Linked DNA regions of Homo sapiens: region 1 is linked to region 2. Evidence: fine-mapped expression QTL. A gene starts in region 2. The other region holds a variant in brackets. All regions are shown on one strand. Distances are between the middles of the regions.

Region 1 (5,485 bases), 34 kb before region 2:
AGAGTTCAAGACCACCCTGGCCAATATGGCAAAACCCTGTCTCTACTAAGAATACAAAAATTAGCCTGGCATGGTGGCGCATGCCTGTAATCCCAGCTACTCAGGAGGCTGAGGCAGGAGAATCGCTTGAACATGGGAGGCGGAGGTTGCAGTGAGCCAAGATTGCACCACTGCACTCCAGTCTGGACAACAGAGCAAGACTCTTTCTCAAAAAAACAAAACAAAACAAAACAAAAACAGAAGAAGAAGAAGAGTAGGAACAGCATAACAACATGAAAGCCCGAAAAATAAATACCTAAGCTTTCTTAAACAATACTTTACATCTATACTTACGTGATGTACCTCTATCATTAGTCATTGTGAATGACTGATGTTTATAAGTGACAGAAAAACAGAAATGAAAGACAATTCCAAATAACTGCAAATGTTATAATTAGATTACAAAAGAAATGCCTTTTTTTTTTTCTTTTTGAGGCAGAGTCTGTCTCTGTTGCTCAAGCTGGAGTTCCGTGGCACGATCTCGGATCATTGCTACCTCCGCCTCCTGGGTTCAAGCGATTTTCCTGCCTCAGCCTCCCAAGTAGCTGGGATTACAGGTGTATGCCACCATGCCCAGCTAATTTTTGTATTTTTAGTGGAGACAGGGCTTCACCATGTTGGCCAGGCTCATCTCGAACTCCTGACGTCAGGTGATCCACCTGAGGAGGCCTCAGCCTCCCAAAGTGCTAGGATTACAGGCGTGAGCGACCGTGCCTGGCCGAAATGCCTTATTTTAAACACTTAAGAAAAATAAAGTACATGTAATGTCAAAAAAAATTCCATTTATAAAAGCGATTAAAAAATCTTTAAAATATCTGAGAAAAGATTAACACAAAATGTTCAGGACTTATAAATTGTAAAATCATGAAGCTTTAAGAATAAAAACAGAAAGGGATGCATGGAAAGAAAGAACAAAAATGAGAAATGCACTATTATCAAGAGGAAAATTGTCCTAAATTAATTTGTATTATATCTTGTTTCTTTGATGCCTTCATTTATTATCTCTAGTAATTTTGAGGTGCTTTTCATTTCATTTGCATAACATGATCATTTTATTTCTTCCTTTTCTTTATGTATATCTTTCTTTCTCTTCTCAAATAGCTTTGTCAGAATTTTTAGAGCTACGTTGAATAGTAGTAATAAGATATCCTTGTCTTGTTCCTATTTTAAAGAGGAATAATTCATGTTCTCCATTAAGTGTAATTTTGACTTTTGGTTTTCAATAGAGCCTTTTTGTCATGTTAAAGAGGCAACCTTTTATTGCTTTTAGGGAGAGTTTCCATGAAGAATTCCCTCTGGCATTTGTGGAAATAATTATATGAATTTTTTCCAATAATATTATTGGTTATGTGGAAAATTGAGCTTTAGTGGGGGATGTTTATAAGTGACAGAAAAACAAAAATGAAAGACCATTTGAAATAAGTTCAAAAACAGAATTGGTTAAAAAGTACATGTTCTTTTTTTCTTCTTTTTTGAGACAGGGTCTTACTCTGTCACCCAGGGTGGACTGCAGTGGCATGATGATAGCACTGATCTCAATCTCCCGAGCTCAAGCAATCCTCCCGCCTCAGTTTCCAGAGTAGCTGGGACTATTTTTAGTACAGATGAGGTCTGCTATGTTGCCCAGGTATGGAACTCCAGAGCTCAATCGATTCTTGCGCCTCAGCCTCTCACACTTTTGGGATTACAGGTGTGAGCTACCACACCTTTAAAATTCCTTTAAAAATTATACTTTATTAAAATTTATACTATATTCTGATTGCTAAAATTTTATTTAGAATGTTTGCATATCTACTAATTTATGAGATTACCATGTAAACTATTTTTTATGCTGTTTCATTAGGTGTGATGATAAAAATCTGTTTCATCAAAGGAAATGAGACAATTTATTTAAAAGGTAATATAGGCCAGGTGTGGTGGCTCACGCCTGTAATCCCAGCACTTTGGGAGGCCGAGGCGGGCAGATCATGAGGTCAGGAGTTCGAGACCAGCCTGACCAACGTAGTGAAATCCCGTCTCTACTAAAAATACAAAAATTAACCCGGCATGGTGGTGCGTGCCTGTAATCCCAGCTACTCAGAAGGCTGAGACAGGAGAATTACTTGAACGTGGGAGGCAGTGGTTGCAGTGAGCCAAGATCACGCCATTGCACTCCAGCCTGGGTGACAGAGCGAGACTCCATCTCAAAATAAATAAAATAAAATAAAATACACTACAATATAAAGAGCAATAAAATTAAAAAAAATTTTTTTTAAACTCACTACATTGCCCAGGCTGGTCTCAAACTCCTGGCCTCAAGCAAGCCTGCCTCAGCCTCCCAAAATGCTGTGATTACAGGTGTGAGCTACCACGCCCAGCCTTTTAAAATATATATATATATA[A/TAA]TGCTGGGCACGGTGACTCACACCTGTAATCCCAGCACTTTGGGAGGGCAAGGCAAATCACGAGGTCAGGAGTTCAAGACCAGCCTGGCCAACATGGTGAAACCCCAACTCTACTAAAAAAATACAAAAAATTATCCAGGCGTGGTGGCACGTGCCTGTAATCCCAGCTACTCGGGAGGCCGAGACAGGAGAATCACTTGAACCCAGGAGGCAGAGGTTGCAGTGAGCACAGATCTCACCATTGCACTCCAGCTTGGGTAACAAGAGTGAAACTCTGTCTCAAGAAAACAACAACAACAATAAAAATGTATATGTATATAATATAATAAATAAAAAATATGTAATACATTTGATATACATTGCTCTGTCACCCAGGCTAGAGTGCTGTGGTGCAATCATAGCTCACTGCAGCCTTGAACTCCTGGGCTCAAGCAATTCTCCTGCCTCAGCCTCCCCAGTAGCTAGGACTTCAGGTGCACACTACCACCTGAAAATTTTTTAAAGTCCAATTTCAATAGAAATAAAAGAAATAATAAATAAAACCATAAGGAGATACCAAAATTGACAACTTTTAAAATAATCCCAGTTCAGGATAAAAAAGGGATACATGGATGCTGGAAGTATAAATCAGTACAACCTTAACATTGTACATAAATACTTCAATCCAATGGAGCTTGGTGGAGGGGAGAGGATGATAGGGTACAAATGATATTTAGTTTATTCTTTCCTGCACTTTTTAAGTTTTCTTTTCTTTTTCATTTCTTTTTTTTTTTTTTTGAGGCAGAGTTTCACTCTTGTTGTCCAGGCTAGAGTGCAATGGCACGATCTTGGCTCACCGCAACCTCCACCTCCCAGGTTCAAGCAATTCTCCTGCCTCAGCCTCCTGAGTAGCTGGGATTACAGGCACCTGCCACCACGCCTGGCTAATTTTGTATTTTTAGTAGAGACGGGGTTTCTCCATGTTGGTCAGGCTGGTCTCGAACTCCTGACCTCAGGTGATCCACCCACCTTGGCCTCCCAAAGTGCTGGGATTACAGGCGTGAGCTACCACTCCCGGCCTAAATTTTCTACATATATAAAAATATATTACTTTCATAATAAAATATGCATATTCAAATTGAAACCTCAGTGCGATATCACTGCACAGCCACCAGAATGGCTAAGATGGGAAGCAACAACCATACTGAATGTTGGTGGGAACGGGGAGTAACTGGAACCCTCATGCATTACTGGGAGGTGTATAAATTGGTTCAACCACTTTAGAAAACCAAAGCTAAATCTAGAGCCACCAGCAATTTCACTCCTAGATAAATACTCAACAGAAACAAGAGCACATGTCCATCAAAAAACCTATACAAGAAGGCCAGACACAGTGGCTCACGCCTGTAATCCCAGCACTTCGGGAGGCTGAGGCAGAAGGATCTCCTGAGCTCAGGAGTGTAAGGCTAGCCTAGGCAACATGGCGAAACCCCATCTCTACAAAAAAATACAAAAACTAGCTGGGCATGGTGGTGTGCACCTGTAGTCCCAGCTACTTATGGGGCTGAGGAAAGGAGCGCTTGAGCCGGGGAGGTTGAAGCAACAGTGAGCCATGATCACACCACTGCACTCCGGCCTGGGTGACACAACGAGACCCTATATTAAAGAAAACAAACAAAAAAAACTGCACAAGAATGTTCATTGAAGTTTTAGTTGGAGTATCTTCAAACTAGAATGCCTGTTTTTTAGAACTCAAATGTCTATTTTGTTTTTTTGAGATGGAGTTTCACTCTTGTGGCCCAGGCTGGAGTGCAGTGGCGCGATCTTGACTCACTGCAACCTTCACCTCCTGGGTTCAAGCGACTCTCCTGCCTCAGCCTCCCGAGTAGTTGGGATTATAGGCGCCCACTGCCACACCCAGCTAATTTTTGCATTTTTAGTAGAGACAGAGTTTCACCATGTTGGCCAGGTTGATCTCAAACTCCTGACCTCAGGTGATCCTCCTGCCTTGGAAGGAAGGAAGGCAGGCAGGCAGTCCCTGCGTAGTGGCTCACACCCATAATCCCAGCTCTTGGGAGACTGAGGTAGGTGGATTACCTGAGGTCAGGAGTTCAAGACCAGCCTGGCCAACATGGTGAAACCCTGTCTCTACTAAAAATACACAAAAATTAGCCATGCATGGTGGCACATGCCTGTAGTCCCAGCTACTCGGGAGGCTGAGGCAGGAGAATTGCTTGAGCCTGGGAGACGGAGGTTGCAGTGAGCCAAGATCATGCCATTGCACTCCAGCCTGGGCGACAGAGTGAGACTGTCTCAGAAAGAAAAGAAAAGAAAAGAAAATGCTTAATGTCCTGAAAAATGTTCATCTTCACAATATAAATATATATTTAATAAATAGTATAAGCTAAAGGTGCAAAATAGTATACGTAAGTGTGAGTCCAAAAATGTAGAAAATAAAAGTGTATAAGCATAGGGAAAAAAAACTGTAAGAAGCAGACATACTACTGTATTGGTTTCGGCCCTGGAAATACAGGATATACATGGAAATGATTTCCACTAGTGTCCTCCTCTTCTAGAAATTGAATTGAGACCTGGGTTGAGCTTACCTCAGTGCTCTCTGAAACCTTAGGCTTTCTTTGTGACTTCTCTTCCGCAGCTCTAAGCCAACAAGCTCATACTGAGAAAATCATTATGAAGTATGATTGAAGCGGTCCTACTGCGGTGGGTTGTCTGAGACTGGAATCCCCCTGCGGGAACTAGAGTACCTAAATTCTACCTAAAATATCAAGAAGACTCTGAAGTGATTGCTTGCGTCAGGGAGGAAAAATGTCTTCTCCACCCTCTTAGATGCTGTTCTTGGGGGGCTGTGAATTAAACTGACAAAAGACAGATTAACAAAAGAAAAGATAAAGTTTATTCACATACTAGGAACCCACAAAGAAAATGACTTTATCCATAACTAAAGACAGGGATTTACAAGCCTACCTTAATAAGGGTAAAGGAGCAGGGAGGAAAAGGCTTCTACTGGAAGAACAAATGGGTTTATTTAGGAAAGACAAATGTATTTTTAGGAGAACAAACCAGGA
Region 2 (5,238 bases):
CCCAAATCCACTAGGAGCCCAATTTCTGTCCCCCTGCCCTACTAGTCCCTCAATTGGTTCCAGTCTCAAGAGAGGGCGGAACCTCACGCTCCCCCATCCCTTCACCCGTTCTACCCAGGGTCAGCTCCAGCTCCCTTGTACTTTCCCTTCGACCCCTCCTGGCAAGAAAGCCATAGCGAGCTTCCTTGTTCCCTAGAATCTCTCCCTCCCGACCACCCCAAAAGAAACCTTGTGAACCCTCAGTCACGCCCTAAGTCGTCCCTAAGAAGCACGCCGCCCTCAAGCCTAGCCCGAGATCCTCTGCCCCGACGACCACCTGGTTCCGCCTACTCTCCACCCTTCCAGTCCTCAGTCCCCAATTTGCCAAAGTGGGGGGCAAGCGATTGACCTCCTCCCCTGAGATCCCCCTCTCACGCCTCCCCCTACGCTCAAAACCGTTGGCAGCCTCCCGCCCACTGTCCACGGCTCCGCCTCTCTCGCCTCGATGACGTCACCCGCCCGCGAGACCACGCTCGCAGACACTCACATCACTTCTGTATCCCGAGCGCCTGGCCGCGCGTGCGCGGCTCCGGTGGCCACAGATTGGCTGAGGGAGGGAGGCGGAGTCTGACAAGCAGCACTGGAGCGGAGTTAATGCCCAGCCGCGGCCGAGCGAGAACCCCCCTAAGGGGCGGAGCTCCGTGGAAACCGGAAGTAACTCTTGACGGGCACTCGGAGCAGTTCCGGTGAGTCCGTGGGTGGGGTCCCCACCTGGTTGGAAGGCTGTGGGTCCGGGAACCCGAGCCCAAGGAGTGGGGGCGGCCCCGGAGCGAGGCTCACACTCCCTGCCCTGCAGATGACTGTCCACAACCTGTACCTGTTTGACCGGAATGGAGTGTGTCTGCACTACAGCGAATGGCACCGCAAGAAGCAAGCAGGGATTCCCAAGGAGGAGGTGACGAGAGGGCCCCGGTGCAGCCCGGGCGACCTCTCATCTCCAAACACCTATAGTCCCAACCCAGCCCCTCCTCTCCAAACCCCAGCTCGTTCCCACCCCCCACCCCATCTCCCGCATCAACCGAGAGCTAACTCTGCCCCTCTCCCTCCAGGAGTATAAGCTGATGTACGGGATGCTCTTCTCTATCCGCTCGTTTGTCAGCAAGATGTCCCCGCTAGACATGTACGCGGAGTCAGAGAAGATGTTGGGAGGAGGGCTAGCCTTGGGAATTTGGGGATGGGGGAAACTTTCTGAAGTGGAAGGAGCATTGGCCTCCAGAGGGGGGAAAGGGTACTTAAGAGAGGCTGAGTCCGGAGCGAGAGTGCTGGAGCTGGCAGGAGTGGGGGTGGGGAGGGTCTGAAAGTAGAGAAGTTGGTGGGGGCTAAATTGAGGGGTGACGATGGGCGATGTCTTTACTCAACCAGGCTTCTACAAAGGATATGTTTAGATAAAGAGGGAGTCGATGTTTGCGGGGATCAGAAGTGTCTCTTTGGGAGAGATTCTGCTCCCATTCTTTAACACCCTCCTCATCTCTGCAGGAAGGATGGCTTCCTGGCCTTCCAAACTAGCCGTTACAAACTCCATTACTACGAGACGCCCACTGGGATCAAAGTTGTCATGAATACTGACTTGGGCGTGGGACCCATCCGAGATGTGCTGCACCACATCTACAGTGCGGTCAGTGCCAGCCCCAGGGACCCATCCCCCAGAGCTCTTCAGAACCCCAAGACTCCCTCATCTCCCCTGCCCCAATCCTACTATATGTTTGCTCAACTCAAGAGTTTTCTCAGGGGCCCTTAGGTTCTTAACTCCCACCACCACTTTCTCCTCAGAGAGGGCTTGCCTTCCAGCCCTTATTCCTTGTGCATTCACACACCCCTGAGGTTATACAAGGTTTGGGGCTAAAAACCAGAAGTATCCAAAGCCTGGCTCTAACATCTTCCCTTTCCATAGCTGTATGTGGAGCTGGTGGTGAAGAATCCCCTGTGCCCGCTGGGCCAAACTGTGCAAAGTGAGCTCTTTCGCTCCCGACTGGACTCCTATGTTCGCTCTCTGCCCTTCTTCTCCGCCCGGGCTGGCTGAAGCAACCTACCTCAAGTCTCAGGAGAATTCATGTCTGCCTGGGGCCCTTCCGAACCTGTGCCAACTAAGGGCCCCCACTGTAAGCCCCCGCACCCCCACCCCCTGCCCAGAGCAACAGCCTAAAGGCCTGCCCTGATGCTCTCCTCCTACCAGAGTGAAGCCCACAGAGTCCCTCCACCTCCACACCAGGCCCTCTCTCCAGTTTTATCCCCTGCCTAATGCTGCGAGAAGCACAGAATAAACTTTTTGTCACTCTCTGCGGCCTGAGCGTGTTGGTTTGAGGGCCCTCTCAGTCCTGCCCCACGCATGAAGGTGGAAAGTAGGGCAGCCACACCCCCTGGAGGGCCACGAAGTGGCTTTGCGGATGGGTTTCTCAACCGTGGGAATATTGATGCTTTGAGCTGGATAATTCTTTATTGTGGGGACCGTCCTGTGCTTTGTAGGATTTTAGCATCCCTGGCCACCACCCACTAGATGCTGATAGCACAGGCATGAAATCAAAAATATCTCCAAACCTTGCCGAAAGTACGCTGGGAGATACATTCCCTCCCGATTGAGAATCACTGGGCCGGGGGAAGCCTGACAGCCCTTGGGTCCCAGAGGGTGCAGGAGCCATCCTCCCCAATTCCGCTCAGAAAATATTCAAGCTGCAGAGCCTTCAGCAGGCGGGGCTTATGCAGATGAGCGGCAGGTTTGGCTGAGAGGAGGGCGGCTCTATGCAGATGAGGAGGCGGTGCCTGCATGCTGATGAGCTGGGCCCGCTGCCGACGCGGCTGGGAGCCCAGCGGGTCCCGCAGCGGTTCGCGCTGAAGTGGCATCTCTCTCCCGCCCCGCTTCCCCCTGGGTCCTTATCCTCCGAGACCTTTACCTCATCCTCGACCTTTACCCTCATCCATTTCCCCCTCCTAATCCTTGCTCCTGTGTCCCCCGTAACTGAATATCTCCACTCCTGGCGCCCCCCACGTTTCTTCCCTCCCGCCGCAAACCTCGCGACCTCCAGCAGCCCGCCCCCGCGGGCCCGATCCTGCCTGGCGGCTCCCGCCGCAGCCTCCTCAGCCTTCCCGCTCTGCCGGGGTTCGCCCCACTACGCCCCCGGTCGTCAGCCCTCGGGCTTCCCTGCTCCCCCCTCCCGTCCCCTCGGAGCCCCCTCCCCCGCCTCGGCCAGCCAGCATGCAGGTGTCTATCGCGTGTACCGAGCAGAACCTTCGCAGCCGGAGCAGTGAGGACCGTCTGTGTGGACCCCGGCCGGGCCCCGGGGGCGGTAATGGTGGGCCGGCCGGCGGGGGGCACGGGAATCCTCCGGGGGGTGGAGGGTCTGGCCCCAAGGCCCGAGCTGCACTGGTTCCCCGACCCCCAGCGCCCGCTGGGGCCCTCCGAGAGAGCACCGGCCGAGGCACTGGCATGAAATACAGGTATGGGGGTGGCCGGGCAGCCCACCCCTTCCGCTTTCCTTTCGGGACCCCTGAGACTGCTTGAGATGGCCGCCAAGACCCCTTCAAACTTCACTAAGTAGGTCTCCCTTCTTTCCATCTCTTCTTTCTGTCTCTGGCACTCCCTCACTTTGTCCCTCTCTTGGTTTCTGTCGATACCCCTGACTACGAGAATCAAGTTTACCAAGGTTGACTGGGTCCTGTCAGACCCAGGGGATGCCCCTGAGCTTCCCTCCTTACCCCTGGGAAGGTCAGGGATGCATGGATCTCCACGCTACACGGATCTCCAGGCTATGCCTCCTCCAGTGGAGTGTCCTTGGGTCCGTGTCCTGGGGAGTGGAGGGAGGGAATCAGCTTCTCACTCTGGCCTGCTCGGGGTGCCTGACCCAGATACTGCCCCTGCCTGCCCCAAAGGCTAGGTCTTCTGCGACCTTTCTTGGGTGCAAGGGGAGTGGGGCCGGTGGGAAGGATGGACCACATTTTTCATCTCCATGCTGAGGGACAGGGTCTGGGTAGACTGAAATGTAACTGACTTTATCTCAGAGGACTGCCAGACCAGAAGCTCAGAACCTGAAGTAGGGGGTAGAGGAGGGGCTCCTGCTTGGGAGTGAGCTGAGGTCACTGATCTGACCTGCTTTGTCACCTGAGGAATCTGATCCCCTCTATATGGTGGCCCTGATTGGAAAGCTGAGCTGACACCTGGGTTGGGGGCTTTGGGAGGATGAGGGGGCTCACTGGTTCAGAGACAGTCTTCACAAGTCAATAGGAACAGAGGGAGTGGAGAGGGAGAACTAGGCTTTTCTGTCTTACTCTCCCCCCTCCCCCCAGGTCCTCAATCTGCCTTTCCTCCAGGCCCATCTGCCTAGCCTAGCCAGGGACCCCTGTCTGTCTGAATGCCTGAACTTGACTTGGTTTACCTCTTCCAACCTGCCATCTACCATTTGGCACAGCACTCTGCCTGAGGGCCTGGTCTCACAAACTCACCACAATCAAACAAAATTCCTCCCAGCCCCTCACTGCACACAACCCACAGATGACTCAAACACAGACAAGACCCCAGAAGAAGGACAAACCAGACTGCACGTCTTCAATGTGATAAGAGGGAATGGAGACTCTGGACAGTGGCTCCAGAGGAACAGTCACATATGGTTCACTTGTCCTTTTGAGAAAATTCCTAGGACCTCTGCTCTGGAGATAGCACTTGCCCAATCTTATAGGCCCACTGGGTCTAATTTCTTTGGACTGAGACACCTGAGGGCTTCTCAGTCTGGAAGGAGAGGAGCTGGGGGCTGATAATCTAAGTCCATAATGGAGGCTCCACCCCTTCCCGCTGCTTCTGTATCTTGCAGGAACCTAGGGAAGTCTGGTCTTCGGGTATCCTGTCTTGGCCTAGGTGAGTCAGAATAGGGATTAAGGAAAGGAGGGCATTCTTTCATGGTCTGCCCCCTGCAGTTCTCATGTGCCTGGCTTCTCTCTTGCAGGTACCTGGGTCACATTTGGTTCTCAGATCTCAGATGAGGTATAAGTTATCGGACCTAGAATCAGGGTGGTGGGGGTGAGGGAACTTGAAAAAAGGGAAGTGAACCTGGATAGGGGTTTGGACAACAAGCACAGGGAATGAGGGATCTGAGGCTGGAGGATGGGGAGAGGGGAGAGACTAGAGAACCCAGGGCTGAGATGTGATGGGTTAGAGTACAGTGAGGGAGGTAACTGAGGAGCAGTAGTTGATCTTTACCTCTTTCACCTCCC

What was found. PIP is the estimated chance that this variant, and not a neighbour inherited with it, causes the effect.
Region 1: its variant is the best candidate, but not a certain one, in a credible set for the expression of KCNAB3 in subcutaneous fat (FUSION, PIP 0.56).

Annotation. Positions count from the first base shown.
Region 1 is chr17:7,961,722-7,967,206 of GRCh38, reverse strand. No RefSeq gene overlaps it. Among named protein-coding and RNA genes, the nearest start is that of CNTROB, 32 kb to the right of the region's middle. The variant A/TAA (reference allele first, on the strand shown) is at 2,421.
Region 2 is chr17:7,927,427-7,932,664 of GRCh38, reverse strand. It overlaps KCNAB3 (potassium voltage-gated channel subfamily A regulatory beta subunit 3), which reads left to right and starts at 2,809. Exons shown (of 14, transcript NM_004732.4): 1 at 2,809-3,471; 2 at 4,839-4,882; 3 at 4,971-5,008. The coding sequence starts at 3,230. It overlaps TRAPPC1 (trafficking protein particle complex subunit 1), which reads left to right and starts at 719. Exons shown (of 4, transcript NM_021210.5): 1 at 719-934; 2 at 1,089-1,159; 3 at 1,516-1,654; 4 at 1,931-2,316. The coding sequence starts at 836. The coding sequence ends at 2,059. It overlaps CNTROB (centrobin, centriole duplication and spindle assembly protein), which reads right to left and starts at 459. Exons shown (of 19, transcript NM_053051.5): 1 at 1-459. RefSeq lists enhancers at 1-65, 96-155, 376-425, 766-1,005.